Regions from separate parts of the Homo sapiens genome. Here region 2 is linked to region 1. Evidence: fine-mapped expression QTL. A gene starts in region 1. The other region holds a variant in brackets. All regions are shown on one strand. Distances are between the middles of the regions. Region 1 holds the start of CLIP3 (CAP-Gly domain containing linker protein 3). Region 2 overlaps WDR62 (WD repeat domain 62).

Region 1 (15,305 bases):
AGGGTCTCAGGGGCACAGGCCATGTTACCCCAACATACATGTGCCTGGACGGCTGCAGGGTAATTAGCATTGTGGATGGAGCCTGGTAATGCATAGGTCAGAGGTCAAAGATCATATTGAGGGCTTAGGAGAGGACCAACCCTCTCATTCACAGAAGGCCTAGCCCAACTTTCCTCATGACCTTGAAATGCTGTTATGCACTGCCATGGGATAGGCTGGATGACCCTGGGCAGATCCCTTAATCTCTGCCTCAGTTTCCCCATTGTAAAACAAGGCTTATAATAGACTTCACCTGACATGTAATGAACACTAGGCATATTTCAGCTGTTATTGCATTTGCTGAATGTACAGACGGCATTTGTAGTATTTGGGGAGTCACGGGAAACGCAGAGACCTGCTGGAGGGAAGTGGGGGAGGAAGGGAGCAGGAGGGTAACGGGTTCTGGGCAAGGGTGGCAGTACCCTCAGCGCAGGGTTGGCGCCGTGCTCCAGCAAACATTTGGCGGCGCCCAGGCACAGGCTGGAAGCAGCGATGTGCAGGGCTGAGCCGTGGTTGAAGTCACTGCACGTGGAGTTCACCACTGGAAGTGGGCAAGAGGAGGGGTTCCGGGTGAGCGCCTGTGGGACCCCAGCCCTCCTCCCACCTCGGGGCTCATCTCTTAACTTGCAGGTCCCAGAGCCTCCGACGCAGAGCCCCGCCCCCACCTCGGAGCCCCCCTCTCCCTTGGCAGCCCCGACCCTCCCTAGAGTGGTAGTCCCTGAGCCCCCTCTCCCACGCCTCCAACCTCCCGCTATCTCCTCAGATCACCGTCCTCCTTCCCCTCGCAGCCTGGCCTCACCTGGGTCTCCGCGTCCCTCACCCAGGTCCTTGCCCCCTCCCAGCCAGGGCTCTCCTCCTCACCTCGCGGCCTCGCACCCTTCAGCAGCACACGCACGAGGTCGGGCACATCAAAATAGGCCGCGTAGTGAAGCGCGTTCATGTTGGTCCAGCGGCTGCGCAGCGTCACATCTGCGCCCAGCGCCAGCAGCTGCTGCGAGAGGCGCACGGCTGCCGCGGGGTCCCCTGCGCGATAGGCCGGGTCAGCTTGGAACCCCCATTCCAGAGCATGGGCCCAGTGCACGGGGAGGACCCTGGGCTTCAGGGACTATACTTTGGGATCCGAAGCTTCGGGTTCCAGATGGGGCCTGAGTTCTGGGTGGTTTTCAGCGTGTTGGGTCTGGGGGCCTAGGCTTTGGGGCTTATGACTTGGGGGTAGGGGGCCCTCACCGACTCCGTGGGCCCCAGCTTTGCACGCATAGTGGAGCAGTGTCATGTCGGTCAGCCCGTCACGATCGTTCACATGGCAGCCTCGGCGCAGAATCTGTGAGTACCAGGGGAGCAGGGAGGGTCACCCACACATGTGGGGAACCGCATCCCCTCTCCCCCTGGTTTCCCCAGTGTTCTCACCTCATTGCCGATGACGTCTATCTTGTGCTGGACTTGGGGCACCCACTGGCGCACAATGGCAAACAGCTCGGGGATGGTGGTCTGAGGGTCAAACAGGATCTCCTGGCACGCCGGGTCATTGGGATCGAAGAAGGTGAAAGCTGGGGTGGCAAGAGGTCCAAGGTCACCCCACGCAACTGACCCCCTCCTTCCAGCCTCAGTAGGGGAGCTGTAGGTCTTTGCCTTTTAGAGCCTCTAATGCAGGGTCTCAAGCTGGTGGCACATGGGCCACAGTCAACCCACAGGCATTTTCTGTGTGGCCAGCATGAGGTTTCAAACTCAGGTGGGTTCACATAAAAATCTCGATGCCCAGTGTGTCTTGAAAAGTTGGAAGATCAGGCAATTCCCATATAGCAGCAAACTCCACCCCCTGAAACAAAAGCCTGACAGAGAGTGCAGTACCTTGGAGTCTGCATGTCCAGGGGGACTGCTACTGACCTCACCCACTGTTGCCCTGTGAGAGTATGAGTGAAGTTTGGCTGAATCTCCAGAGCAAAAATAAATAAAGCCAGAAGTCCTGGTTTTTAATAAAACTCTCTCAATTGTTTCAAATACCATGCAGTCCACATCAAATGTATCCATGACTGGGCACAGTGGTTCACATCTGTAATCCCAATGCGTTGGGAGGCTGAGGCAGGAGGATTGCTTGAGCCCATAAGTTCAAGACCAGCCTGGGCAACATAGCAAGACCCCTGTCTTTACAAAAAGTTTTAAAATTAGCCAGGTGTGGTGGTGCGCATTGGTGCTACTCAAGGAGATTGAGACAGGAGGATTGCTTGAGCCCAGGAGTTCAAGGCTGCAGTGAGCCATGATTGTGCCACTACACGCCAGCCTGGGCAACAGAGCAAGACCCTGACTCTGGAAATATAAAAAATAAAAATAGAGGCTGTGCGCGGTGGCTCACGCCTGTAATCCCAGCACTTTTGGAGGCCGGGGCGGGCGGATCACCTCAGGTCAGGAGTTCGAGACCAGCCTGGTCCAACGTGGTGAAACCCTGACTCTACCAAAAATACAAAAATTAGCCAGGCGTGGTGGTGGGCGCCGGTAATCCCAGCTGCTCGGGAGGCTGAGGCAGGAGAATCACTTGAACTCAGGAGGCAAAGGCTGCAGTGAGCTGAGATGGCGCCGCTGCACTCCAGCCTGGGTGACAGAGAGTGAGACTCCATCTCAAAAAAAGTAAATAAATAAATAAAAATGAAAATAAAATAAAATGTATCCATGAGCAGGAATCAACCTGTGCCCAGCCAGGGTGGTGCCTAGAGGCACTTCTGTCTCTTCCCACTCGACTCTAAGGAGTACTGCTCTCTGTGACGTCAGCACCCAGCACAGGGCCCTGGCACGTGGCAGGAACTCAGTGCGTGGTGAATGAACGACTACATGAATGATCAGATTATACACAGCCCAGGGAAGTGCCACATAGAAGGTGTCTCCAGGAATCAGCCGGCATGCTCCTTTTAGAACTGCAGTCACATCATAGCCCTTCTTGGCTTAGAACCCTCCTCCAGCTCCCAACCCATCCAGAGTACAGACCAAAGTCTTCCCCACGGCCCTCAGGGCTCTGCACATCCAGCCCCTCAGTTCTCAGCCCTCTCCCCTCACTTATTCCCCTTCCCTCATTTCCCACACTGGGCTCCCTCTGTCCCTCCCACGTGCCAAGCAAATTCTTGTCTCAGGGTCTTGGCACTTGCTGTTCTTCTCACTCAGGATAGACTTCCCACACATCTTCACAAAGCTTTATAAATCTTTGCTCAAATGTCATCTCCTCAGAGAGGCCTTCCCAAACCACACTGTCTAAATCGGCACCCGCCCTTCTCCATCTCCTACTCTTTTTTTTTTTTTTTTTTTTTTTTTTTTTAGAGATAGGGTCTTGGCTGGGCATGGTGGCTCACGCCTGGAATCCCAGCACTTTGGGAGGCCAAGGCTGGCAGATCATGAGGTCAGCAGTTCGAGACCAGCCTGACCAACATGGTGAAACTCCATCTCTACTAAAAATACAAAAATTAACTGGGCGTGGTGGTGAGTGCCTGTAATCCCAGCTACTCAGGAGGCTGAGGCAGGAGAATCGCTTGAACTCGGAAGGCAGAGGTTGCAGTGGGCCAAGATTGCACCATTGCACTCCAGCCTGGAGTCCGTCTCAAAAAAAAAAAAAAAAATAGGGTCTGTTGGAATGCAATAGTATGATCATAGCTCACTACAGCCTTGAACTCCTGGGTTCAAGTGATCCTCCTGCTTCAGCCTCCCTGGTAGCTAGGACTACAGTATACATCACCATGCCCAGCAATTTTTTTTTTTTTTGTAGTGACAACGTTTTGCTATGTTGCCCAGGCTGGTCTCGAACTCCTGGGCTCAAGTGATCCTCCCACTTTGGCTTCCCAAAGCACTGAAATTACAGGTGTGAGCCACCATGCCCAGCCCTTTATTTATTTATTTATTTTTATCATAGCTCATATCACTACTTGACATGTTTACTCCTCTTTCTCCCTCCTTCATTTCCTCTCTTCTTCCCTCACTAGGATCTAAATGCTATGATTCTATTCTGCCTCATTCACTCCTTTATCCCCAAGGCCAGGCACAGCACATGGCACACAGTAGGTGCTCAGTCAATCTCTGTTGAATTAATGTACAAATTTAACAGATACATGATTTCCTCTTGGAGTCCACCTTAGCCTTCTCCCTGTCCTCGACCACATTTCCAGATTTCTTCACATTCTGGGACAAAACCTCTCCCGCTCTACAAGCAAGACTGCTTGGAGGGCTCAGCCTATACCCTCCGACCTCCCACTGAGTCAGAGGCCCCAGCCACCTCCAGCTGCATTTCCAAAGGAGATTTTCCAGTTTTCTGAGGTACAGCACCCCCCCGACCTCAGGCCCCAGATAACTTCCTTTTACTTTTTTCTTTTTTTGAGACAGGGTCTCACTGTGTCACCCAAGCTGGAGTGCAGTGGTGCAATCCTAGCTTACTGCAGCATCGAATTCTCAGGCTCAAGTGATCCTCCCACCTCAGCCTCTGGAGTAGCTGGGACTACAGGTACCCACCATGCCTGGCTAATTTCTAAATTTTCTGTACAGATGGGGTCTTGCTCCATTGCCCAGGCTGATCTCGAACTCCTGGCCTCAAGCAATCCTCCCACCTTGGCCTCCTAGAGTGCTAGGATTATAAGCCAGAACCACTGTGCCTAGCCAACTTTCTTATTTTTCTATTAGACTGAAGTCAACTTGTAGTCTCCCTGATCTACCTCTAGTGGGTGACATGTCCATGGATGCCATCTGTCTTGCTCTATCCTGGCAACGCTGACTCTCTGAACCTGGTTTCTGAACCTCACAGCTGCCGGGGATTCCCAGCCTGCATATCTTCCAAATTCCCCTCCTACATCCAACTCTGGCTGCACTCCATCCCCTTCTACCCAGTACCCAGAGGGAGCTTTCAAACTACAAATCAGACCTGCCACTCCTCTGCTCTTAAACACCCTCCCCTTGCCACTCTTCTCCCCTGTCCCACTTAGAATATAACCAAAGTCCTCACTGTAGCCTTGAAGGCCCTTCCAGATCTGGCCTATGCCAACCTCTCACCTCAACCTCGATCATTCCCTGAATGCAGCTCCAGGATCTTTCTGTTCCAAGTTCAATTCTGCCTCAGGGCCTTTGCACTTGCTGCTGTCTGCCTGGAACACTCTTTTTCCAGCTCTCTTATGGCTGATTCCTCCCCATGCTCTGGGTCCCAAACTAAATGTTACCTACTCAGAAAGAGCAGCCCTGACTACCCCTGCAGGTAGCTGCCCCCTAGTCATTATCGTATCTCCACCTTTAATTTCTTTTTCTTTTTTCTTTTTTTCTTTTCTTTTTTTTTTTTTTCTTTTTTTTTTTTTTTTTTGAGACAGTCTTACTCTGTCACTCAGGCTGGAGTGTAGTGGCTCGATCTTGGGCAACCTCTGCCTCCCAGGTTCAAGCGATTCTACTGCCTCAGCCTCCCGAGTGGCTGGGATTACAGACATATGCCACTATACCCAGCCAATTTTTGTATTTTTAGTAGAGATGGGGTTTCACCATGTTGGCCATGGCTGGTCTCAAACTCCTGACCTCAGGTGATCCGCTGGCCTCAGCCTCCCAAAGTGCTGGGATTACAGGCGTGAGACACCATGCCCAGCCCACCTTTTCTTTCTTTCATAGCACTTGCTCCAATCTGAATTTATCTGATTTCTGATTTATTTATCTGTTCACTTGTTTAGTCTCTCCTTCTCTCCTGCAAGGGAGGATCATGCCTGGATCACTTAGGATTAAATCTCCGGCACCCAGCATAAGGCTTGTCACAGAGTAGCAGCACTCGATAAATATCGCTCGGTCAATGATTAGACACTTTCAGTTTCTCCAAGAGGCCGCCCTCTCAGCTCCATACCCTCCTACCTCAGATCCTTTACCCAGCGGTTACCTCTCCTGGGAGCCCTTTCCCCTGACCCTTCTCTTAGTTAACCCCAACTCACCCTCCAGTCTTCTCAACTGTAACCTCCTCAGGGAAACAATGTCTTAAAAAACTCTTGCAGCAGCTTGTTTATGGTAAATACAATTTTCATAATGTCTTGTAATTACATATTTATATTACATTATATTTTTCTTTCTTGCATATAAACCTAAATGTGAAAAATTACATTATGGTTTAATACCTATTTGTGTGGCTGTTACTGAGGCCTGTGAGTTGTCTCAGGGCAAAGACTGGGTCTCTCTTGCCCCCTGCTGTGGCCCCAGCCCCTAGCATAAAGCCAGGTCCACAGCCGCTTTCAAAAAATGATTGTTGAATGACTAAATGATGGAATGATGTGTCATGAGTCAAAGACTAGGAGTATTACAATTCCATTCTCCAATGGGTGAATGAATGAATTAACGAGGGGTGCTCTGCAGCCAAGATTCCTCTGGACCACCTTCAAATTCCCCAGAATTCTCCCACCATCACCACCAGCAGAGCACAGCCCACCCTCCCCGGCCACCCAACGCTCCAGGCCAGATTCCAGGGTGGGGACAGTGGTTACCGTAGTCCTTAGGGAGGGGGGCAGGTGCCGAGGGGTGCACAACAGGCTTCTGCCGGCGCTCCTGGGTGGGGCTGGGGGCCTCGGGGACGGGTTCATCCTCCTCCTCCTCTTCTTCCTCCTCTCCTCGGGGTGGCGGGGCCATCGGGGCAGGATCTGTCTTAGTCATGGTCCTCGGTGGCCCTCGGGGGGCGGGTGCAGAGTTGGGGGCAGCCTTCAGGCAAATCCTGGAGGCAGAGGTCAGCTGGAGAGGGTGCCCGGCAGGCTCCAGGGTCCAAGCCCCTAGGAGCTTCCAGGGCCCCGGGTGGCCTCCGCGCAACTGGATCTTGGGCAACCATAGGGACCCCCGTTACCCATAGAGGGCCCCGGTGTGTGCGCCCAGCGCCTGCCACCTCCCCCAGGCCCAGCCCCCCATTCTTCTCCTCCCGCGTCAGGCCCCTCAGTCGCGGCTGCCCCCTCCCCGGGTTTGTTTATCTCGGGATTCAGGATGCTTCGCCCCTCCCCTTCTCCGCGGGCCGCCCCCTCCCCATCTTACCTCGGGCAGACAGCGCTGGGGACCAAAGTGGAGACTGGGGAGACTGTGGGAGCAATGGGGTGTCGGTGTCAGGGGACGTGATGGGGGAGGCAAGGGAGACAGAGAGAAGGGGACGAGGCCCAGACGCCGACAGGGGGTGGGGGCGGAGAGGGAGGGGCGCGACTGCGCATGCGCCTGCTGCCCCCCTACCGGCGGCGGGGGAGGAGGGACCAGGAGGAGGGACCGGGAGGCGCTCGCATTGATGGAGGGGCCAGAGGCGGCGACTGAAAGGGGAGAGCCTCCGGGCACTGGGAGAGGAAGAGATGGCTACGGAAAGGAGCGAGATGAGCAGATACAACGGCAAAAGAGAGGGCTGAGAGAGCGGACACAGATCTTCTCCATCCCCTTCCCCCACGCCTGCAAACCAGGCCGGTGAGGGCAGTGGTCTTGGGGCGTGGTGACGATGGGGACCCTCTAGGGGACCCTCTCTCTAGGACCCTAGACCGGACCCCTTCTCCAAGCTCACCATTCATAATGGGTGCCTCAGAGGGGTGATTTCCTAGAGACTCCTATCATGATCATCTCATCCTTACCATCATAATGCGAGGCTCACACACTGGGGCCCAGAGGTTAAGCAGCTTGCCCAAAAGTACATGAGTAGGTGATGGAGCGAACATTTGAAACCAGACAGTCTGTAAAGTCTGATTTTTATTTTTATTATTTCCTAGACAGGGTCTCACTCTGTCACCCAGGCTACTGTGCAGTGTTGTGATCTTGGCTCACTGCAGCGTCAAACTTCTGGGCTCAAGCCATCCTCCCACCTCAACCTCCCGAGTAGCCGAGACCACACGTGCATGCCACCATGTCTGGAGAATTTTTTTTGAGACAGGGTTTTGCCATGTTGCCCAGGCTGGTCTTGAACTCCTGACCTCAAGGGATCCTCCTGCCCCTGCCACCCAAAGCGCTGAGATTACAGGCACGAGTCACCATGCCCAGCTTTGATTCTTAATCACCATGCTACATGCCTGTAGCAGTGTCTGGGAAACAGATCTGCCGATTGACCCCTCCAACTCTCTCAGAACCTGTATCTTCCCCACGGAGGCCTCCTGAAGCCAGCCCAGGGTCCTGGCTCCATTGTCATGGCTTGGCTTCCCACCTGGAGCTGTAGCCTGCTCTGCCTCAAATCATCCCAGCCTGGATGGGGCTGGGTGACAGCCTTGAACACCTCATCCTTCTAATGCACAGGTCCAGTAGCTCCATCTCCAAAAGATTTCCAGGATCTCACTCTCCCCACCGCTACCCTGGGCCCTCATCTTGGTCCATCCTTCTTCTTCTGCCACCAGCACTACGGCAGCAGCCTCTTACCTGCTGTCCCCGTCCTCCTCCAACATGCAGCCACAGGGACCCATGAACACCTGTCACTTTGGAGCCCTCTTTCCCTCAGAGGGGTCTGCCTGCTGCACCTCACTCCAGGTAGAAGCCAAGGCTCTCAGCCATGGCCCACAAGGGCCTATGTGAACCTGCCCCATCATCTCTGCACTCACCTCCTCTCACCCTCTTTTGTTCACTCCACCCCAGCCACACTGGCCTCCTTGCTTCTCCCTACCCCAGGACCTTTGCACTGGCTCTTTTTTTTTTTTTTTTTTGAGATGGCAGTCTCACTGTTCCCCAGGCTGGAGTGGAGTGGCATGATCTCTGCTCACTGCAACCTCTGTCTTCCAGGTTCAAGTGATTCTCCTGCCTCAGCCTCCCGAGTAGCTGGGATTACAGGCCTGTGCCACCACACCCAGCTAATTTTTGTATTTTTAGTAGGGACGGGGTTTCGCCATGTTGGCCAGGCTGGTCTCAAACTCCTGACCTTAGGTTATCTGCCTGCCTCAGCTTCCCAAAGTGCTGGGACGACAGGCGTGAGCCACCGTGCCTGGCCTGCAACGGCTCTTTGTGATGCCCGGAATGCTCTTCCTCCAAATCCCTACGTGGCTCCCTCTCTGCCCTGTTTTAGGATCTTACTTGTTGGTGTCTTTTCACCTTCTCTGCTCTAAAACTGCACCCCTTCCTCCCTTCCCTACTATGGTTTTCTCCATAGCAACACCGCCTCCCAGACCTGACACATCCCAGACAGCAGGCCCTCACTGCAGGGGTTGTTCGTCCTCTGGAACCTGAGCCTGTAGCGCTCCAGGCCAGCCCCTTCTGATCACCCAGGTTTCTGCTAAAACATGGCCTTGGAGGGCCCTCCCCCAGGCCCAAACCAAATTTTTGTTGTCTTTATAGCACTCATCGCTCATGTCTGCAGTGTTCTTGTTTATTTGTTTACTAGTTCATCGTCTACTCAAGTAGAATGAGCACCATGAGGGCAGGGATTTTCTCAGCTGTGTCCACCATGGTATCATGAACTCAGTACCAGGCTTGGCAAAAAGCGTGGGACTCCTTAGAACCAGGTATGATTCTCCCAAACAACCCTTGCTCTGCTCTGAGGCTGTCGTACTGATTTGCAAAGATCTGAGCCGGGGGTGGCAGAAGCCTGGTACCCAGGGGATTGGGGGCTGATGAGAGACTTGGGCCCAGGTCACCCCTAAGGTTCAAGAGATCCCTAGGAGTGGGGTGGTAGAACCCAGGCCCTTGAGGGAGGCACTGCTACTACCCAGGCGTGGGCGGTGGGGCTGGGCCAAGCCCACGTATAATGTCTTTCCTCCTCCATCTTCTATCTTTTGTCCCTCGACATTGTCTGTCTTGATCCTTATGCACTGGGGATCCGAGTGTCCAGGAGCTCCGGCTTGGCATCCACTGTGGCAGGTGCAGGGTCCTGGGCAAGGACCATGGCTATGTCAGGCCCTCCACAGATGATGGTGAAGGTTTGGGATTCCTCAGGTCCAAGGGTCTGGGCTGTTGTCTAAGGCAAAGAAGTGGTAGAGATGGGGAACATTACGAAGCAAGTTGCGGGAGAGACAGACAGATAACGGTGAGGAACAGGGAGGCAAAGGTGGCAGGAGGGCGTGTCAGGAAACAGAGAGAGATGTGGGGAGAGATATGAGGAGACAGGAAAGCAGATGTGAGGGCCAGAGAGACATTCATGGGAAAGGAAAGAAGGGTGGGGAAATGGGAAGAGAAGTGCGGGGGCACAGACGCAGACACGTGGGGGAAAGAGATGTGCAGGCAGACAGACGTACAGACAGGGTCAGAGATATGGGGGAGACAGAAAATATGCAGATAAAGAGAGACACAGGGAGGTGGGGAAACAGGTGGCGGACAGAGATGATGGGCAGAAAGACAATGAATGTTGGGGAGGGAGGAGATTGGGAGGTAGGGATAGATGAGTAGGAGACAGAGATTGAATGACAGGAGGGGAGGCAGAGAGAGGCAGTCAGCTCAGGGGATCTGGCAGGCTCCACAAAGAGCCCCAGGCCCGAGTCTGAGCTCTGTCCCTGCCCCACTGTCCCTCTGTGCCCCAGGCCACAGTCTCAAACTTCAAGGCCCCAGAGGCAGCCACACTGTAGCTCCAGCCAACTGCTATCACCTGAGAATCCAAGCCCAGTGCTGCTAGATATGCAGAGCCTTCAGGAAAGACCAGACTTTTTTTTTTTTTTTTTTTTTGAGACAGAGTCTCACAGTGTCACCCAGGCTGGAGTGCAGTAGCACAATCACAGTTCATTAAAGCCTTGACCTTCTGGACTCAAGCAATACTCCCACTTCAGCCTCTCAAATAGCTAGAACTATAGGTGCAACACTTGGCTAATTTTTTGTGTTTCTTGTAGAGACAGGGTTTCACCATGTTGCCCAGTCTGGTCTCAAACTCCTGGGCTCAAGTCATCTACCTGCTTCAGCCTCCCAAAGTGCTGGGATTACAGGTGTGAGCCACTGCACTCGGCCATTATAAATTATTTTAAAGCACTGCGGAGGCCAAACAAATTGTATCTGTGGGTCATGTCCAAACCACTGACTATCAATCTGAGACTCCTGGCTGGGCATGGTGGCTCATACCTGTAATCCCAGCACTATAGGAGGCCGAGGTGGGCTGATTACCTGAGGTCAGGAGCTCAAGACCAGCCTGGCCAACATGGCAAAACCCCGTCTCTACTACAAACACAAAACTTAGCTGGGCATGGTGGCACGTGCCTGTAATCCCAGCTACTTGGGAGGCTGAGACAGGAGAATCGCTTGAACCAGAGAGGCAGAGGTTGCAGTGAGCTGAGATCGCACCACTCCACTCCAGCCTGGGCAACAGAGCAAGACTCCTTCTCAAAAAAAAAAAAAAAAAAAATCGGATACTCCTTAACTCCAGAGGTACTGTGGGGGCTCCTTCCTGAGCCCCTTCAGTGAGTCTAGCATTCAGAGCTCTGTGTGGGCATCTCTCTCATACAAGCAGGGCTCTGAAAGCCATGGGGGCTAAGCTGGGCACCTCAAGCTTGGCCCTAGGGTTTTAAGACAGGAGAAATTTCGCCTTGGTCAAACTGTGATTTTCAGAGACATAACACCATTCCTCATCTTCCTCCCCCGCCACCCCACACACAGAGACATAACACCCTTCCTCAACTTCCTCCCCTACACACACACACACACACACACACACACACACACACCTTCCTCAGCTTCCTCCCCTACACACACACACACACACAAACACCTTCCTCAAATTCCTCCCCTACACACACACACACACACACACACACACACACACACACCCAGCAGTAAAATATAGAGGCAAAAGGGATTCAGATAGGGCCTGGGGGACACTATTACAGAGATTGCAAACTCCAGCTCTATAGGGGCCAGGCAGGAAGCTCTCACAGGCCTCTTCTGCAGCCAGACACCTGGGTTTGAATCCTGGCCCTGAAACATGTTGGCTGCCTGACTGTGGGCACACTACTGGACTGCTCTGTGCCTCCATTTTTTCATCTGGAAGATAGAGACAACAGCAGTATTAAGATTATAATGAGGTTTTTTTTGTTTGTTTTTTGAGATGGAGTGTTGCTCTTGTCGCCTACGCTGGAGTGCAATGGCACAATCTCGGCTCACTGCAACCTCTGCTTCCCAGGTTCAAGCAATTTTCCTCCCTCAGCCTCCCGAGTAGCTGGGATTACAGACGTGTGCCACCACGTCCGGCTACTTTTTGTATGTTTAGTAGAGATGGAGTTTCACCATGTTGGCCAGGCTGGTCTCGAACTCCTGACCTCGTGATCTGCCCACCTCAGCCTCCCAAAGTGCTGAGGTTATAGGCATGAGCCACCACACCCGGCCTTTTTTTGTTTTTGTTTTTGTTTTTGAGATGGCGTCTCGCTCTGTTGCCCAGGCTTGAGTGCAGTGGTGCCATCTCGGCTTACTGCAACCTCCACCTCCAGGGTTCAAGCAATTCTCACACCTTAGCCTCCCAAGTAGCTGGGATTACAGGTGCGCCACCATGCCCAACTAATTTTTGTATTTTTAGTAGAGACAGGGTTTCTCTATGTTACCCAGGCTGGTTTCAAACTCCCGAACTCAAGCAATCTGCCTGCCTTGGTCTCCCAAAGTGCTGGGATTACGGGCATGAGCCACCGCACACAGACCATAGTGAGTTTTTTGTTTGGTTGTGGTTTTTGGTTTTTTTTGAGACCTTGCTTGGTCACCCGGGCTAGAGTGCAGTGGTGCGATCTTGGCTCACTGCAGTCTCTGCTTCCTGGGCTCAAGGGATCTTCCTGCCTCAGGCTCCCAAGTAGCTGGGACCACATGTGCCCACCACAATGCTAATTTTTGTGTTTTAGTGAGACAGTCTTACCATGTTGTCCAGGCTGGTCTTGAACTCCTAGGTTCAAGCGATCTGCCCACCTTGGCCTCCCAAAGTGCTAGGATTACAGATGTGAGCCACTGCATTTTTTAAAAATTAACCTTGTAGCAGTCAGGCATGGTGGCTCACTCCTGTAATACCAGCATTTTGGGACGCCAAGGCAGGTGGATCACGAGGTGAGGAGATCGAGACCATCCTGGCTAACACGGTGAAACCCTGTCTGTACTAAAAATACAAAAAATTAGCTGAGCGTGGTGGCGGGCACCTGTAGTCCCAGCTACTTGGGAGGCTGAGGCAGGACAATCGCTTGAACCTGGGAGGCAGAGGCTGCAGTGAGCCGAGATTGCACTACTGCACTCCAGCCTGGGCAACAGAGCGAGACTCCGTCTCAAAAAAAAAAAAAAAAATTAACCCTGTAGCTCCAGCTCAAAGGGTCATAGTGAGTTTTCAGCTCACTATGTTATAACTCTGTGTCTGGCAGACAATAAGAGCTTCTCAAATATTAAGTATTTAGTATTAGTAAATGGAGCAATCATTACTCAGCTCCAACCAATAGTTGCTTGGCATTGCCAGATTTTGTTTTTCAGGAAAACCTAGAAATTTGTTTTAATTTTCTGTAGAGACAGTGCTTGCTATGTTGCCCAGGCTGGTCTCGAACTCCTGGCCTCCAGCAATCCTCCTGCCTTGGCCTCCCAAAGTGTTGGGATTACAGGCGTGAGCCACTGAGCCCGGGAAAGCCAGAAATTTGGAAACACGGCTGAATGTTCTGATTTTTGAATAGGGGATCCTAGACAAAATGAAAACACACTGCAGGCCAGGCCACCACCCATGGATGGGGCTGCCAGGCTGGGGTGCCACTCACCAGGCGCTGCAGACCCCGGCGTGCCCGTGCCAGCAGGCTCTCCCCGTGTAGCTGCTGTGCCAGCCGTTCCAGGGCCTGCAGCTGCGCCTGGTGCCGCTCCTGGCACCGTTGCAGCCTCCGCACCCGGCGTTGCAGTGCTCCCAGCACTGGGCCCAGCCCGGTCTGGGCCTGTTGGGCAGGGACTTCAGGTTGTGACCGCTCAGGAGTTGGCGCAGGGGCCAGGGGGGTCAGGAGCATGGTGGCCACAGTCTTGGGGCTCCCCGATGTGGGGCCCAGCACCACTAGGCGCACTGGGCCAGAGACTGGGATGGCAGGGCTCTGGGGCAGGGGTGTATTCTTCTGTAGGGGAGGCGGCGGCGAGACTGGCTTCTGGGTGCTTCGGGTCCTCCGCTGACTCTGGAAGACAAGGCATGGGGTGCAGGGGTGCCGTGGTCAGACTTCGACTCAGGAGGAAAGGGATGGAGGGTCTGTTTCCAAGGGGGACTTGCCTAGGTAAGGCCAGACCTCAGGGAGGAAGTGTCGTCAGGAGGGGAGGGCCAAAGTTCAGACTCAAGGAGGGACTTCCCTTAGGCAGGGAGGTCTGGGGGTTGGATTCCAGCAGCAGGACCTCCCAGCGCTCACCTTGGCAGGTGGTCCCCGGGAGAAGATGGAGGGCACTGCATCAGGCCGCAGGTAGCGCACACCCCAGCGCCACTGGAAGCAGGAGGGTGTGAAGTGCTCGCTGCACAAGTGCTGGTGGCAGCTGGGCACCCAGTGCTCACAGCCCATGTGCTGCAGCCAGGCCTGCAGCCGGGGACCATCCTTCAGTGGGAACCTGCATGGGTGGTTGGGGGGCTGGGTCAGTGCTACGAGGTTCAGACTTATCCCTCCCAGAGGATACCCACCCTGGAGGTCTCTGGGCTCCAAGCCTGTGCCTCCCTAGGGCTAGGAAGTAGACCTGTCTTGTGCCCAGGCTTTCTCTATCTCATACACACAACCACAACCCTTTTTTCAGCTTCATCTTTTAGTAGTAGTATTTTGTGAGACGGGGTTTCGCACTTGTCACCCAGGCTGGAGTGCAATGGCGCGATCTTGGCTCACTACAACCTCCGCCTCCTGGGTTCAAACGATTCTTCTGCTTCAGCCTCCTGAGTAGCTGGGACTACAGGCGCACGCCACCACGCCCGGCTAATTTTTGTATTTTTAGTAGAGACGAGGTTGCACCATGTTGGCCAGGCTGGTCTTGAACTCCTGACCTCAGGTGATCCACCCACCTTGGCCTCCCAAAGTGCTAGGATTATAGGCATGAGCCACCAAGCCTGGCATTTCTTCTTATTATTATTAATTTGAAAGCTCCACCTTTTAAACACCCAGCATCAGCCCACCTCTGCCCCCTCCACTGCCCCTCCTTCCAGCCTCCTTCCTGGTCTTCCTGCCCACAGTCCCGCCCCTCCACTCCCAATTTGTTCTTCCACATCAACTTGTTGGAGCAGTTTATAAAATCAGACAGTTACGATGTGGGAGATCGTGCAGCCAAGCGAAAACGTTTCTTCCACACCATATAAATGGGGGTGTGGGGTTTCTGGATTAAGAGAGATTTAAGAAACATCAGCACAAACGCAGGATGTGGACCTTGCCTACAACAAACAATTCAGTAAAAAGACATTTTAAGACAATTGGGGAAAACTG
Region 2 (15,305 bases), 76 kb after region 1:
GCCCCATTTCCCAGGTAAGCAGGGGCCAGACACGCAGGGGACTCGCTGCTCGGGCCTGGCTTAGGGCCAGTCACAATGTCTAAGCACAGGCCCTGCACTTGGAGCCCACTGAGCCTGGAAGACGGGGATCCCTGCTTCTCAGCCTGCGGGCAACAGGGCAGGGATGGGTGGGGCCCGCTTTCTCCATTTCAGGTGGCGTCTGCTGTGACTCATGGTGTTGGCTCCTCTTGTCCCTCCCCTCCTTCCCTGTCAGGATGCGCAGGTCCCACAGAAGATGAGCTGTCCCTGCCCGAGGGACCCAGCGTCCCCAGCAGCTCCCTACCCCAGACTCCGGAGCAGGAGAAGTTCCTCCGCCACCACTTTGAGACACTGACTGAGTCCCCCTGCAGAGGTAGGGCCCTGCCTCACCCACACCTGCCGAGGCCGTCTGTGCAGCCTGGGCACAGCATTGGCGTCCCTGGAGTTGGCTCCCCAGCAGGGCCAGGAGGGTGAGTGGAGAGCAACTGCTTCGTTTTTTTTGAGACGGAGTCTCGCTCTGTTGCCAGGCTGGAGTGCGGTGGCCCAATCTTGGCTCACTGCAACCTCCGACTCCCTGGTTCAAGCAATTCTCCTGCCTCAGCCTCCTGAGTAGCTGGGATTATAGGCATCCACAACCACGCCCTGCTAATTTTTTGTATTTTTAGTAGAGATGAGGTTTCACCATGTTGGCCAGACTGGTCTCAAACTCCTGCCTCAGATGATCTGCCCGCCTTGGCCTCCCAAAGTGCTGGGATTACAGGCGTGAGCCACCGTGCCCGGCCCACTGCTTCACTCTTGACCTGAGCCTCACGATGCCTCCTCACCCACTGCCCCTGCTCGTACCCTGTGTCTGTACATAAGGGTTTCTGGGGAGTGCCCCGCTGGGCTGTGGGCTGGCCTAGGGCCAGGGCTGCTCGGCGGGAAGGGTTATGAGGGTCCCCTCGGGATCTTCCCCTAGAGCTCTTCCCCGCAGCTCTGGGAGACGTGGAGGCCTCTGAAGCTGAAGACCACTTCTTCAACCCACGCCTGAGTATCTCCACGCAGTTCCTCTCAAGCCTCCAGAAGGCATCCAGGTAGAAGCTGGCCAAGCACTGCCCACCCTCTGGCTCCTCAACAGTGCCCCAGGGCAGGCTGAATGAGAATCATCCCCCCTGCTCTCCTCCCCACAGGTTCACCCATACCTTCCCTCCCCGGGCAACCCAGTGCCTTGTGAAGTCTCCAGAGGTCAAGCTCATGGACCGAGGCGGAAGCCAGCCCAGAGCAGGTACTGGCTACGCCTCCCCAGACAGGACCCACGTGAGTATTGGGCCCACCTCCGTCAGGGCACGGGGCTGGGAACCCTGAGGCCTTGTCCTCACCTCAGAGCTGTGCCTGCAGGTCCTCGCTGCAGGGAAGGCTGAAGAGACCCTGGAGGCCTGGCGCCCACCACGTGAGTGCCCCAGTCCCAGACGGACAGTCCTGGGTTTCTCGGCGAGTGGCCGGATGTCCAGCCTAGCTGTGGGGCGTGGGGGCCCTAGCCATCAGTTCTGTGTGGTGGAGTCAGTGCCATCTGCTTCCGTTACAGCTCCCTGCCTTACGAGCCTGGCGTCCTGTGTCCCTGCTTCCTCCGTGCTGCCCACAGACAGGAATCTCCCAACGCCCACATCTGCACCCACCCCAGGCCTGGCTCAGGGTGTCCATGCCCCCTCCACCTGTTCCTACATGGAGGCCACTGCCAGCTCCCGTGCCAGGATATCACGCAGCATCTCCCTCGGTGACAGTGAGGGCCCTATCGTGGCCACACTGGCCCAGCCCCTCCGTAGGCCATCGTCCGTTGGGGAGCTGGCCTCCTTGGGCCAGGAGCTTCAGGCCATCACCACCGCGACAACACCCAGTTTGGACAGTGAGGGCCAAGAGCCTGCCCTGCGTTCCTGGGGCAACCACGAGGCCCGGGCCAACCTGAGACTGACCCTGTCAAGTGCCTGTGATGGGCTCCTGCAGCCCCCCGTGGATACCCAGCCTGGCGTCACCGTCCCTGCAGTGAGCTTCCCAGCCCCTAGCCCTGTGGAAGAGAGCGCCCTGAGGCTCCACGGCTCTGCCTTTCGCCCAAGTCTCCCAGCTCCTGAGTCCCCTGGCCTTCCTGCCCACCCCAGTAACCCCCAGCTTCCAGAGGCCCGGCCTGGCATCCCTGGCGGCACTGCCTCCCTCCTGGAGCCCACCTCCGGTGAGTACAGCCCTGGAGCAAGGACTGTCCCCTAAGCTCATCCTGTGTGCTAGTTGGCTCAGCTCCAAAGATGGATACTTGACCTGGCCACAGGGACTGTGCCATTCATTCATTCGTGCATTAACTTAAATATTTAATGAGCATTACATGTTGGGCTTTGTGCTAAACCCTGGGACATGGGACATGGTGGTAAACAACACAGAGAACTGACAGCTTCAATGGGGACAATGCCCAGACTAAACCTTTAAGGAACCCGTCATATGTATCACGAAGTGACACATGCTTAGGAGGGACAGAGGAGGGCGAGGGAGTGCAGGGTGGGGACAGGGGTTGGGATTACAAACCAGAAGATAAGAAGAGGCTTCAGGGAGGAGGCTGCATTGGAGCAGAGACCTGTAGGAGTGAAGGGGAGGGAGCCTTGGGGACCCAGAGAAGTGTTCCAGACAGAAGTACAGCATGGAGTCCACCCAGTCGCTCTGGCCGCTCACACCAATGGAATGCAGCTCATCTTGCTCATTCCCTTCTCTCTACCCCAGGTGCACTTGGTCTGTTACAGGGCAGCCCTGCCCGCTGGAGTGAGCCCTGGGTGCCGGTTGAAGCCCTGCCCCCATCTCCCCTTGAGCTGAGCAGGGTGGGGAACATCTTGCACAGGCTGCAGACCACCTTCCAAGAAGCCCTCGACCTTTACCGTGTGGTGAGCTAAGCCCCAGAGTTGGGAAAGGGTTGAGGGGTCTCTTGAGACCGCCCGGCCTTGGTGGCCCCTGACAAGGCTGGCATCCCTTGCAGTTGGTCTCCAGTGGCCAGGTGGACACCGGGCAGCAGCAGGCACGGACTGAGCTGGTCTCCACCTTCCTGTGGATCCACAGCCAGCTGGAGGCTGAATGCCTGGTGGGGACTAGTGTGGCCCCAGCCCAGGCTCTGCCCAGCCCAGGACCCCCGTCCCCACCGACGCTGTACCCCCTGGCCAGCCCAGACCTGCAGGCCCTGCTGGAACACTACTCGGAGCTGCTGGTGCAGGCCGTGCGGAGGAAGGCACGGGGGCACTGAGGGCGCAGCCCCTCCACCGCAGCCCTGCTGCTTCTGAGGACTTAGGTATTTTAAGCGAATAAACTGACAGCTTTGAGGAATGGTTCCTGGTGTCTGTTTGGGCCTATCCACAAAGCCCTCTTCAAGTGGAAGTGGGGAGGGAGGGTAGAAGG[T/G]GATGCCCAGAGGACTCGTGTCTGTCAGTGGAGAGCATGGGACCAGCGCTCCCAAGAAGTTCAGGAACTGCAGCCATGACCTCAGGGCCAGTCCTCCCACACTGCCCACAGAGCTGCCACAGACCAGTGTGAGGTGCTTACCCAGTGGGGCCCATTTGTGCCCCAGGGAGGAGCCAGACCCTCTTACCTGCCCCCTGCCAGTGCCTGAGAACTCACTGGGGCTGCTGTGATCACCATGTGCCTACCTTGCCCAGCAGTCCACGCTTTGCCATATCATGGCTCAGGGCCTCTGGGCCAAGGCCACACTAGATCCCACAAAGTCCACGGTGGTGGTGTCCCCATCTGCAACAGGGGAAACTGAGGACCCATGAACAGGCTTGCCCAAGCTGGGTATGGTGGCCTGCACCTATAATCCCGGCTACTCAGGAGGCTGAGGTGGGAGGATCGCTTGAGGCCAGGAGTTTGAGACCAGCCTGGGCAACTTGGTGAAACCCCATCTCTTTATTTCATGTATTTATTTATTTATTTTTGTTTTTGAGATGGAATCTTGCTGTGTCATCCAGGCTAGAGTGCAGTGGTGCGATCTTGGCTCACTGCAACCTCCGCCTCCCGGGTTCAAGCGATTCTCCTGCCTCAGCCTCCCGAGTAGCTGGGATTACAGGCACCCACCACCATACTCAGCTGATTTTTGTATTTTTAGTAGAGACGGGGTTTTGCCATGTTGGCCAGGCTGGTCTCAAACTCCTGACCTTGGGAGATCCGCCCACCTCGGCCTCCCAAAGTGCTGGGATTACAGGCATGAGCCACCGCACCTGGCCAAAACCCCGTCTCTTTAAATAAAACAAAATAAAACAAGAAACCCAGGCAGGCTTGCCCACTGTATGATCCTGGCAGCAGGCCCAGGCCACGAGCAGCTGGGACCAATAACTGCTTCCCCTTCAGAAGTTCTACATTCCACGAGCTCCCAGCACTGCTACCAGCTCCCCCAGACAGCAGGCATCTGGCCACATGGGGTGTCTGCTAAAAAAGCCACTCTTGGCTGGGGTGTGGTGGTGCACACCTGTAGTCCCAGCTACTCAGGAGGTTGAGGCAGGAGAATCGCTCAAACCCAGGAGGCAGAGGTTTCAGTGAGCTGAGATCACACCATCATTGTACTTCAGCCTGGGTGACACAGCAAGTCTCAAAAAAAAAAAAAAAAAAAATCCTGCCAGTTCCCACCCAGGTGCCGGGCACTGTAGCAGAAGGAACATCAGGCAACGCACCTGCCCTCATGGCCACTCACCTTCTATACAGTCAAACAGATGCAGGAATTAGAGCTCTGTATAATTCTAGATAGGTTGGGGAGATCCATTGCTGGTGAAGGGTCAGGGAAGGCCTTTCGAGGTGACATTTGGGCTGAAGCTTGATAGAGGACATCTCAGGAACACATCCAGGCCGACAGCACAGCCAGTGCACAGGCCTGGGGCAGCCACACGTGATCTGTGTGGAAGCAAGAGGAGCGAAGCCCGGACGGCTGGAATGGAGTGAGCAAGGGGAGGGCAGGAGCTGAGGTGCAAGGAGGAGCAGGGCCTTGTTGCTTCATAACATTTAAGTCCAAGGAATATCCAGAACAGTTTTTTGTTTTTGGGTTTGTTTCTAAATCTCTGCTCTTAATGTTTGGGGGATATCCAGTGTTGCTTATTTCTCACGACTCTGCCTCAGGGAGTCCAGGTGGTCCAGAACTTGAACCACCTGCCTAGGCCTAGGCCCATCTGCCTAGTTCGGCCACCATTGCCCAAAACCTTGCCCAACATCCCTGGGCAAAGCTTGGTGTTCAGCCCCCCAGGCCTCGGACACCCAGGAGACCACCTTGGGCCTCTGTCATGCATGGAATTACCCTTCCTTCCAACCTGTATCATAGTAAAGTCTTCTGCTCCAAGGAGTAAACACCTGGCTTTCAGGGCCCAAGATGGAGGGACGTTGGTTACCCTTGATGTCATCATGCACCTGGCCTCTTCCTCTCCTGCTCTGTTATCCTCTGTGAGCAAGCTTCAGTCTCCAGCTTATGGCCTCATGGTTGCAACACGGCTGCTGTGGCACCCAGCAGCACACCCTCAGGTGGTGTCTCCATTTTGCAATTGTTGGCTTTCCTGCAGCCCTGACTGAAGTGCCTGGCATAAGCCTGGAAGCGCAGGAGCTAGAAGCTGCCCCGATAGTACTGCTATGGGGAGGCTGAGGTTAGATGTGGAGTGCAGGGGGCTCACAGAGGGTGACAGCAGGAGAGGAAGAGGCCAGGTGCACAATGACATGAGGGTCAGAGGCCCAAGTTATTGGTCCCAGCTGCTGGGTGGCCTGGTCCAACCAGGAGCAAAGGCACAGAGCAGGGCACCCTCTAGGGCAGCAGAAAAGATGCAGATCTCTCCCAGGGGTCTCCCTGGGAGACTCATCTGGGGTCAGATGAGTCCCAGGCAACAGGAATGGAGATTGCTTTGATGTGCTTGGACCATCTCTCCTGTCCTGGGCATGTTGCAGCTCAAACAAAGAGGTTCTCTCAATAAGAAAGGCAAGTGGGCTGGTAATCAGAGAGGATCCAGCATGTCTGCCACTTCCCTCTTCCAAATGCCAGGCTCTGTCCTGGAAGGACCATACTTTCTCCATACTTCTTAACCAGGATAAACCACCTGGTTAAGAAGCCACTGCTGGTGGTGCAGCATGTGTGCATGTGGTTTGTGAGCTGACAGGGTCCCAGCAGAAAGATGACAGCATGCTTAGATGGGATATTCCAAAGAGTTTAACCAAGGGATCATTTGCAAAGGAGCAGCAGGGACTGGGAAACCACCGAGGCTGGTGCAGAACCCCAGGACTGGCACCCTGGGAGCTGTTACCACCCCCAGGCCACAAGGCACAAAGAGAAGGAACAAGAACCCAAAAGAGCAAATCCCAGGGAGAGGGTAGTGCTGAGGGAGCTGCAGCCCTGACTCCCACACAGGACGGAGTGAGAATCAACACCCTGACCTTACTCCCCTCCTGCAGGGCACCCCATTGTCCAAATCCTACTGGAAGCCAGAGTGCATAGAAGCCCAGGTGACCCCGCCTCCAGTCAACCTCCTAGGCCATGGAGCAGGGCAGAACAGGACTGAGAGGGTTCCTGGGGAACTGGGTCCCTGGAAGGAAAACAGTTCATCTTTCACTGCAACTCCCCCCCTGCTTCTACCCCCACATCTACCCTTGGCCTCCCCATAGCAGTACCATCAGGACAGCTCCTGGGTCCTGAGCTGCCAGGCCCGTGCCAGGCATCCCAGTCAGGGCTGCAGGAAAGCCAACAATTGCAAAATGGAGACACCACCTGAAACCCCATTTTGCAGATGACCCACCTGAGGCCTGGATGTTTGCCCAGAGGAGGGATTCCTCGGCAGGATGCAGTGGCTCATTCCTGTAATCCCAACACTTTGGGAGGCCAAGGCAGGCAGACGGTTTGAGCTCAGGAGTTCAAAACCAGCCCTAGGCAACATAGCAAGACTCCACCTCTACAAAAAATTTTAAAATTAGCTAGGTGTGGTGGTGCACGCCTGTAGTCCCAGCTACTTGGGAGGTTGATGTGGGAGGATCACTTGAGCCCAGGAGCTTGAGGCTACAGTGAGCTGTGTTCACTCCACTGCACTCCAGCCTAGGTGACAAAGCAAGGCCCTGTCTCAAAAAAAAAAAAAAAAAAAAACCTTCCTAACCAATCCCTGCTTATATGTCTGCCACATGCCAGGCCCCATGCTAAGCATTCTCTCCATGTGAGCTACATGGATCTTCAATACAAACTGGGAAGAGGGAGATTCCTTAGTCTCATTTTCCAGGTGAAGAAACCGAGGCCCAATGAGAAATGACTTGCTCTGGGTCCTGCAGAGAGCAAGCGGAAATGCATGGCCAGCAGACCCTCAGCACTGCCACCCTTGCTTCCCCAAATGAATTGGCACAACTGACTCTCGGGCAATGTAAAGAAATGAAGAAATACTCCTCTCACCAGCAAGCCTTGTACAGATGTCCCCCTCTGACTAGAACACCCTCCCCTTTCATCTGAAACCTTTCAGCGCTTATCCAGGAAGCCATCCCTGTACCCGTAGCCTGGATCAGGAGCCTGTTCGGGTCCCCAGGTACCCCTCTTTTCCCCATCATGGCTGGGTCTCTGCCTCACTTGCCTCTCACTGTCTTGGTCATTCTGGGCTGTCACTGGTGTGCCTCCTTCATGGACTTACGCGATCATTTTCAGTAAGCTAGGTCTGGAGCTTAGAAAATTGTTTAGTTGCCAGGCGCAATGGCTCACGCCTGTAATCCCAGCACTTTGGGAGGTTGAGGCAGGTGGATCACTCGAGGTCAGGAGTTTGAGACCAGCCTGCCCAACATGGTGAAACCCTATCTCTACTAAAAATACAAAAATTAGCCGGGTGTGGTGGTGCGCACCTGTAGTCCCAGCTACTTGGGGGACTGAGGCAGCAGAATCGCTTGAACCCAGGAGACGGAGGCTGCAGTGTGTGGAGATCGTACCACTGCACTCCAGCCTGGGCAACAGAGTGAGAATCTGTCTCAAAAAACAAAACAAAACAAAACAAAAAAAATAAAAACAGGTTGGGCGCGGTGGCTCACGCCTGTAATCCCAGCACTTTGGGAGGCTGAGCCGGGCGGATCACCTGCATTTAGGAGTTTGAGACCAGCCTGGCCAACATGGTGAAACCCCATCTCTACAAAAAACACAAAAAATCAGCTGGGTGCAGTGGTGTGCCCCTGTAATCCCAGCTACTTGGAAGGCTGAGGCAGGAGACTCACTTGAACCCAGGAGGCGGAGGTCATAGAGGAGCCAAGATCACGCCATTGCACTCCAGCCTGGGCAACGAGCAAAACTCCGCCTCAAAAAAAAAAAATTAAAAAACAGAGCTTGGATTGCTTCTTAGTCTTCTGGCTAAGAATCAAGTGTAAAACAGCTTGGCCAGTGTGCCGGGGTAGGGTCCTGGGAGCCCCTGGCTGTGTCAAGAGACCCCCTTTGGGCCAGGTGCGGTGGCTCATGCCTGTAATCCCAGCACTTTGGGAGGCCAAGGCAGGCGGATCACTTGACGTCAGGAGTTCAAGACTAGCCTGGCCAACATGGTGAAACTCTGTCTCTACCAAAAATACAAAAATTAGCCCGGTGTGGTGGTGCATGCCTGTAGTCCCAGCTACTCAGGAGGCTGAGGCAGGAGAATCGTTTGAACCCGGGAGGTGGAGGTTCCAGTGAGCCAAGATGGTGCCACTGCACTCCAGCCTGGGCAACAAGAGTGAAACTCCGTCTCAAAAAAAGAAAAAAAAATAGGAGACCCCCTTTTACTTTCCAGACTGTGGGAGGGAGGAAGAGTGTTGTCCCAGGCAGTAACTAGGGGCTAGATTATTAACAAACTAGTATTTTAGTGCCTGCTACACCTGAACAGTGCTTCTGGCTGAATGTTAGCCCTGGGAATCTGAAGATCAGAGAGGTGGGGCATCCTACCTGAGGATGCACAGCCTGGATCCTCATTTTGCCCTGATTTATCCAGATCTGCTGTCCTCCCTGCACCCTACAGAGCAGGGCAATCACAGCAGGGGGCCCCTTCAGTGTCCTCAGACAGCTGCTGTGATTTGAATAACCAGGCAGGCTGCTGGATGTCCCCTGGTGACTGATTTGCCTGGCAAACAGACCCTCAACCCCTGGGAGACAGTCCCCCTGGGGCCTTGTTTCTTCTTCCTATCCTCAAAAGCTCCCCAGGCCCATCTCCCCTTGCCTGGCTCTGCTTGGTGGTCCTAGTGCTTGTCCACCCCTGGAGGCTGGATGGTTCCCTCCAAAACCTGGGAGAAGATGGGCAGGTCCCCAGGCAGGGGTAACCTGAGCCAGCTTAGTCCACTCCCAGGGCCAGCCAGGAAATTTGCATGAAGAGAATGAGGTTCCTCAGAGGCTTCCCCTCCTTTCCCACCAGGGATAGTCATCCTGGGGCTGAGGTCTGACAGCAGGTGGAAGCAGCCCCTGTGTGTGGAGAGCCTTCCGGAGGGCATGCCCCGCGCCTTCCTGGTCAGGAGTCGGCGTCCACAGCCCCCCAACTGGGGCCATCTGCCTGACCAGCTCCGGGGAGATGCCTATATCCCAGGTGGGCCCCTCACTGTGCCTGGAGGTAAGGGGCAGGAGAGACGCAGTGTCACCATCTGGCTTTTCTCCTCAGACTGCAGCAGCCTGGGGGGGCCACCGGCACAACAGTCGTCCAGTGTCAGGGATCCGTGGACAGCGGTGAGTGTGTAACTGGCTAGCAAAGCCAGCTGTTTCGCTCCTGCCTGCTCTCAGCCTTAATGAAGCTGACAGCCCCTTGCTCCCCCGACCCATCTGCACACGCCCTCCAGCCTCGGGACCTGTCCGCCCCTACTTCTCTGTGTTGGGAATGCCTCTCCTTTCCTAGTAGTGAGCTCTCTACTGTTAGGTCTCACCCCAGGCACCAGGGCCGGCAGCCACAGGGATCTCTTCCAGCGGGGCACAAGATTCATCCCCACATGTGGATGATCCGCTTTATGTCAGAACATGGGACAAGGCAACAGGAGTGCGATGGGAGATAAGGGCTTTTTCAGCTGTGCATGCATTGGAGGAAGGAAAGCGCCAGCCGGAATGTAATATATTCATGAAAGCAAGGCACTGTTCTAGGCATGGGCTGTTATATTCAGCGGGAATAAGACAAAAATCCACAATTTTATGGAGCTTATATTCTGGTTGGGGCTGCATGTATAGACAATAAAATTAGTCAGCCTGTAATTCCAGCACTTTGGGAGGCCGAGGCGGGTGAATCACTTGAGGTCATGAGTTCGAGACCAGGCTGGCCAACATGTTGAAACCTTGTCTCTACTAAAATTACAAACATTAGCCAGACATGGTGGCACGTGCCTGTAATCCCAGCTCCTCAGGAGGCTGAGGCAGGAGAATCAGTTGAACCTAGGAGGCAGGGCAGAGGATGCAGTGAGCCGAGTCTGCGCCACTGCACTCCAGCCTGGGAAACAGATCTAGACTCCATCCCCCCTCAAAAAAAACAATAAAATTAGAAAAATAGACCGGGCATAGTGGCTCATGCCTGTAATCCCAGCACTTTGTGAGGCCAAGGTGGGTGGATTGCTTGAGGTCAGGAATTCAAGACCAGCCTGGCCAACATGGTGAAACCCCATCTCTACAAAAAATAAAAAAATTAACTGGGCATGTGGCGCATGCCTACAATCGTGTAATCGTGGGGAGGCTGAGGCACTAGAATCGCTTGAACCCGGGAGGCGGAGGTTGCAGTGACCTGACATCATACCACTTCACTCCTGCCTGGGCGACAGAGCAAGACTCTGTCTTTAAAAAAAAAAAATGTGTATGTCACATCAGAAGATGGGACTTGGCATAGAGAAAGTAAGGACCATGGGATAGTGAGGGAAGGCCCTGGAGAGTGACAGGCACACACACTAATCACTGTCTCCCACCTGCCTTCCTAATCCTCCGTGGTGGCTCAGGACACTCTGTAAATACTCATTTGCAGAGTAACAAAGGGTGGATGGGGTCCAGCCAGAGAGGCTAATAACTCCTGCATCCCTCCAGCAGCCCACACAGGGCAACCTGACCTCTGCTCCCAGGGGCCCTGGGACGCTGGGCTGCCCGCTCTGCCCTAAGGCCTTCCCTCTGCAGCGCATGCTGACAAGGCACCTCAAGTGCCACAGCCCCGTGCGCCGCCACCTGTGCCGCTGTTGTGGCAAGGGCTTTCATGACGCCTTCGATCTCAAGCGCCACATGAGGACTCACACTGGTGAGCAGTGGCAGGGACAGGGAAAAGTTGCTGGGCCCCAGGTGGGGATGGAAGGAAATGGAGAGAGGTGCTGGGCTGTGGAGTGTCCATGGTTTGTGTATGTGGGGTATGGAGAATCAAGACATGATGTCTCTCGGACCCCAGTGGGTGGGTGTAAGGTGGCACCAAAATAGGGGCCTGTCACGGAATGCAGAGTGCAGACGGATGCCGGTTATACGATTCAGGCTCCAGATCGAAAGGCAAGGGAAGGCCTCCCTCTCCATCCCCCAGGGGAGGGAGCATCCTGGTGAGGGAGAGTGGAGACACAGGTGTCTGGCCCATGTCTGCACTGGGTGACGGTAGCAGATGGTGGGTCATGGGCGGAAGAGTCTGAAGAGCTTGGAATAGGTACCAGAAATGCTCAACACTGGAAAGCAGGGTGGGGGCGCTTTAGTCCAGAGCCCATTGCCCTCTCTGTCCAGCCCTCCCCTCTGCGCCCATCTGTGCAGGGATCCGGCCCTTCCGCTGCAGTGCTTGCGGGAAAGCGTTTACGCAGCGCTGCTCCCTGGAAGCTCACCTTGCTAAGGTGCATGGACAGCCGGCCAGCTACGCTTACCGTGAGCGCCGCGAGAAGCTGCACGTGTGCGAGGACTGCGGCTTCACCAGCTCCCGGCCCGACACCTACGCACAGCACCGCGCCCTGCACCGCGCAGCCTGATACGGTGTGCCAGCGTCCTCCCCACGAGGCAAATAAACACAGAAAACTCACGCATGGAATCTGGTGTTTATTACACTCGGGGGAGAGAGGAGGTCACTCGGTCCAGCGGTGGCCGCAGTGTGGGGCTGTGCACACGTAGTAAAGGCGCATGGCGTCCTGGCAGAAATGATGCATGGTTAGGAAGGATTTGGACCCAGCAGCGCCTTACCCCAAAAGAACAGGCAAGAGAACTTCACCAATAGGTAAGGGCCCGGCAGAGTTCCAAGAAGCGCAGGGTCACCCACATTGATATCCCCGCCCCCAGAAAGGACCAAACAAGCCCCAGATACTTAGAAAGCCCTCGCGCCACTTACCTCGGCCCGCGCACTGTGTGACTGGAAGAACACAGCCTCCTTGTGGCCGCACCTGAGAGGGTAGGGGCTCGGTCACCGGAGGCTTCACACCCTTCCCTCCTCCCTTCGCCCAGTGAGGAGACGAGCCTCACTTTACCTCCCCAGTACCAGCTGAACGCTCACTTTTGGCACGGGTGGTCCTCGGTCCGCGGCAACGTGGGGTCCTGGGACACGTCGGCGATAATCTGGGTCAGTTCGCTGCAGGGACGCGGGGGTGCAAAATTACGCTCAGACCCAGCCTCCAGAGCCAACACCCCCGCCCCCAGCTCAGGGCCCGCCACTCACTCCACTTCGTGCGTGATCTTGTTGACATAGATGCAGCTGTTGTCGGCCTCCTGCTGGTAATCACAGTTCCGGCACTACGAGAGGGCGAGTGTGGGGGAAAGGGGGTCACGGAAGGATTCCAGACAAGATTGGGAGGAGAGGGCAGGGTGATCCCGGAGGATATGACGACAGGACTCTCTTTGGGGATGGGCAGGACATGAGAGTCAGGATCACTTGAGGTGCAGCGGAGGGCGAACAGGGAGTCCGATCACAGAGGCAGGGGGCAGGGCGGGGCCACGCTGGGAACAGGTGGACCTGCCGGGGAAGACCCCGGCGCTCACCGCGTAGAGCAGAATGCGGTTCTCCTTGTCTTCCTTGGGGTACAGCATGTTGTTACTGTGGGGAGGGGGAGGTGCCAGGGGTTAGTTCTGGAGCCATTCCTCGCCCGCCTTCTAACATCACCCGCTCCCTCCGCCTCACCATTCCTGGCAGAAGCGAATACCCACGAAGCCCGGCTCGTAAGTCCCGTCGGGCTCCATGGCGACGCGCAGCCCGCGCAGCCCTCCCAGCCTTCCGCGCTTGCTCCGCCGCGCTACAGGTCGCGGGAGGGGCCAGGCCTAGGTGCTTCGCCAAAAGAGGGCGGAGCTGCGCACACGTGCTGGCTCCCCGCCGCCTCGGGCTCGGCTCTCTCCGCGCAGAGGTTTCATGGCTTGCTTCAATCTTTTGATATCTTAGAGTAATTGCTTCCAATTTTTGGGCATCGCCGCCTCAGTTTACAGAATAGTATGGATCTGGTGCCAGAGCCGGGAAAACGATGCGCATCGTAAACCGCAAAACACTGAGCATCCAGGACAGAAGCCAAGGCGCTTGGCTTGGTTGAAGGCCAGTGCGCATGCGCGAGTTTACCCTTCGCGGACTGGGCGAGCTCTTGCCACTCCTACCTCCGGGCTTCAGTCTTCGCCGCCTGTTCTGGTCCTTTCCCGGGCCGCTATTGGAAGAACCGTGAACTATGGAAGGCCCCTCTGGATTGGCTGGGCTGGCCCAAGAGTAAGGAGAGCCCTCTTCCTGGCGGTGGGGAAGGGACGGCGGCGATTGGCGGACGCTCCTGGCAGGAGAGCGCGGATTGGTCAGGCACGGAGCAGGAGGCGGGGCTGATAGCCCAGCAGCAGCAGCGGCGGCGGCGGCTGCGGAGCGGGTGTGAGGCGGCTGGACCGCGCTGCAGGCATCCGCAGGGCGCGGCAAGATGGAGGTGACGGGGGTGTCGGCACCCACGGTGACCGTTTTCATCAGCAGCTCCCTCAACACCTTCCGCTCCGAGAAGCGATACAGCCGCAGCCTCACCATCGCTGAGTTCAAGGTGTGGCCATGGGGGCGGGGTCCGGAGGGGCGGGGCGAAGAAATTGGGGGGTTCCCGGAAGGGGGAGGCTGGGAGGGGCCGGGGAGTGACTGGGCGGGCCCGGAGGTGATCCCAGGCTGCGGAGGCTGGGGACCCGGTCGCGGCGGGGCGGGTCCGGAGAGAACTCGAGAGTGCAGAGATGAGGGCCGGGTCCAGCGAAAAATCCGACGGTCCAGAGGGCGGGGGCAAGAGGCGAGGGGCTGGATTGCGGCCCCGTGCGTCCTGACTGGGGGGTCTTTTGGAGGAAAAGGGACGTGGCGATGGTCATTGATGCAAGGGGCGGGGCCTCCGTGGCCTCCTTCTTCTCACCCTGCCTCCTCCTCACAGTGTAAACTGGAGTTGCTGGTGGGCAGCCCTGCTTCCTGCATGGAACTGGAGCTGTATGGAGTTGACGACAAGTTCTACAGCAAGCTGGATCAAGAGGATGCGCTCCTGGGCTCCTACCCTGTAGATGACGGCTGCCGCATCCACGTGAGGACTCTCTATCTGGGACACTCCCCCACCCCACCTTTCATTTGGTTATTCAACAGACACTTGCTGGGCTTTGCCCTCAGTCATACCCGAGATAGGTCCTGCCTTCGTGGAGCCTCCAGTGCAGCCTGACGAGAGACAGACCCATCATTAGACAGGGACAGCCTAGAGTGGTCTGGGCTGGGATCAGGAAATCCCAGGGGACTGGAGCCACCAAGAAGAGGTGCCTGACTCCACCTGGGAGAATCAGAGAGGGCTTCCTGGAGGAAGGGATGTCTGAGCTGAGGGATGAGGAAAGGGTGACTTAAGAGAAAGAGGTGGAAAGGAGGGAGCAGGGTGTACAGAGGCCTAGAATGTGAGGTAGGTCACAGTGAGCGACCAGGCTGGACAGCTTGGGAGAAACCAGAACACAGGATCTCTTTGTGCATCCACTCAGTACATCCTTTCTGTCTTTTTTTGAGACAGAGTCTCACTCTGTCACCCAACCTGGAATGGAGTGCAGTGGCACTATCGGGCTCACTGCAGCCTTCACCTCCTGGGTTCAAGTGATCCTTGTGCCCCAGCCTCCCGAGTAGCTGGGATTACAGGTGCCCACCCAGCTAATTTTTGTATTTTTAGTAGAGATGGGTTTTTGCCATGTTGGCCAGGCTGGTCTGGAACTCCTGACCTCAAGTGATCAGCTCACCTTGGCCTACTAAAGTGCTGGGATTACAGGCGTGAGCCACCAAGCCCAGCCCCTTTCTGTCCTTATTCCCTCCCGACCTCACTCAGTCTGTAGCAGCCACATTGCTCCTTGCACAGTCCAGGTGAGCTCGGCCTCTGGATCCTGGGCCTGAATGGTTCTTTTGTCATATGCCTGCGTGCCTCACCCTTCCTTCCTG

The links.
Region 2: its variant is fine-mapped to the expression of CLIP3 in whole blood (INTERVAL, PIP above 0.99).

Annotation. Positions count from the first base shown.
Region 1 is chr19:36,025,686-36,040,990 of GRCh38, forward strand. It overlaps CLIP3 (CAP-Gly domain containing linker protein 3), which reads right to left and starts at 7,188. Exons shown (of 14, transcript NM_015526.3): 1 at 7,039-7,188; 2 at 6,507-6,730; 3 at 1,447-1,586; 4 at 1,267-1,360; 5 at 901-1,062; 6 at 462-580. The coding sequence starts at 6,672. THAP8 (THAP domain containing 8) reads right to left here. Exons shown (of 4, transcript NM_152658.3): 2 at 14,259-14,451; 3 at 13,638-14,033; 4 at 9,299-9,907. The coding sequence ends at 9,755. All of the region lies in intron 3 of LOC101927572 (a long non-coding RNA gene), which reads left to right. RefSeq lists a silencer at 9,914-10,087.
Region 2 is chr19:36,101,761-36,117,065 of GRCh38, forward strand. It overlaps WDR62 (WD repeat domain 62), which reads left to right. Exons shown (of 32, transcript NM_001083961.2): 25 at 1-14; 26 at 254-391; 27 at 977-1,091; 28 at 1,188-1,314; 29 at 1,396-1,447; 30 at 1,583-2,221; 31 at 2,758-2,915; 32 at 3,008-3,348. The coding sequence ends at 3,268. OVOL3 (ovo like zinc finger 3) reads left to right here and starts at 9,383. Exons shown (of 4, transcript NM_001302757.2): 1 at 9,383-9,536; 2 at 9,609-9,673; 3 at 11,000-11,204; 4 at 11,693-11,951. The coding sequence starts at 9,443. The coding sequence ends at 11,901. POLR2I (RNA polymerase II subunit I) reads right to left here and starts at 13,115. Exons shown (of 6, transcript NM_006233.5): 1 at 13,038-13,115; 2 at 12,899-12,953; 3 at 12,579-12,652; 4 at 12,417-12,491; 5 at 12,255-12,306; 6 at 11,949-12,057. The coding sequence starts at 13,096. The coding sequence ends at 11,995. TBCB (tubulin folding cofactor B) reads left to right here and starts at 13,708. Exons shown (of 6, transcript NM_001281.3): 1 at 13,708-13,914; 2 at 14,281-14,424. The coding sequence starts at 13,801. RefSeq lists enhancers at 8,982-9,612, 9,613-10,242, 12,099-12,610, 12,629-12,758, 14,349-14,438 and a silencer at 13,949-14,038. The variant T/G (reference allele first, on the strand shown) is at 3,421.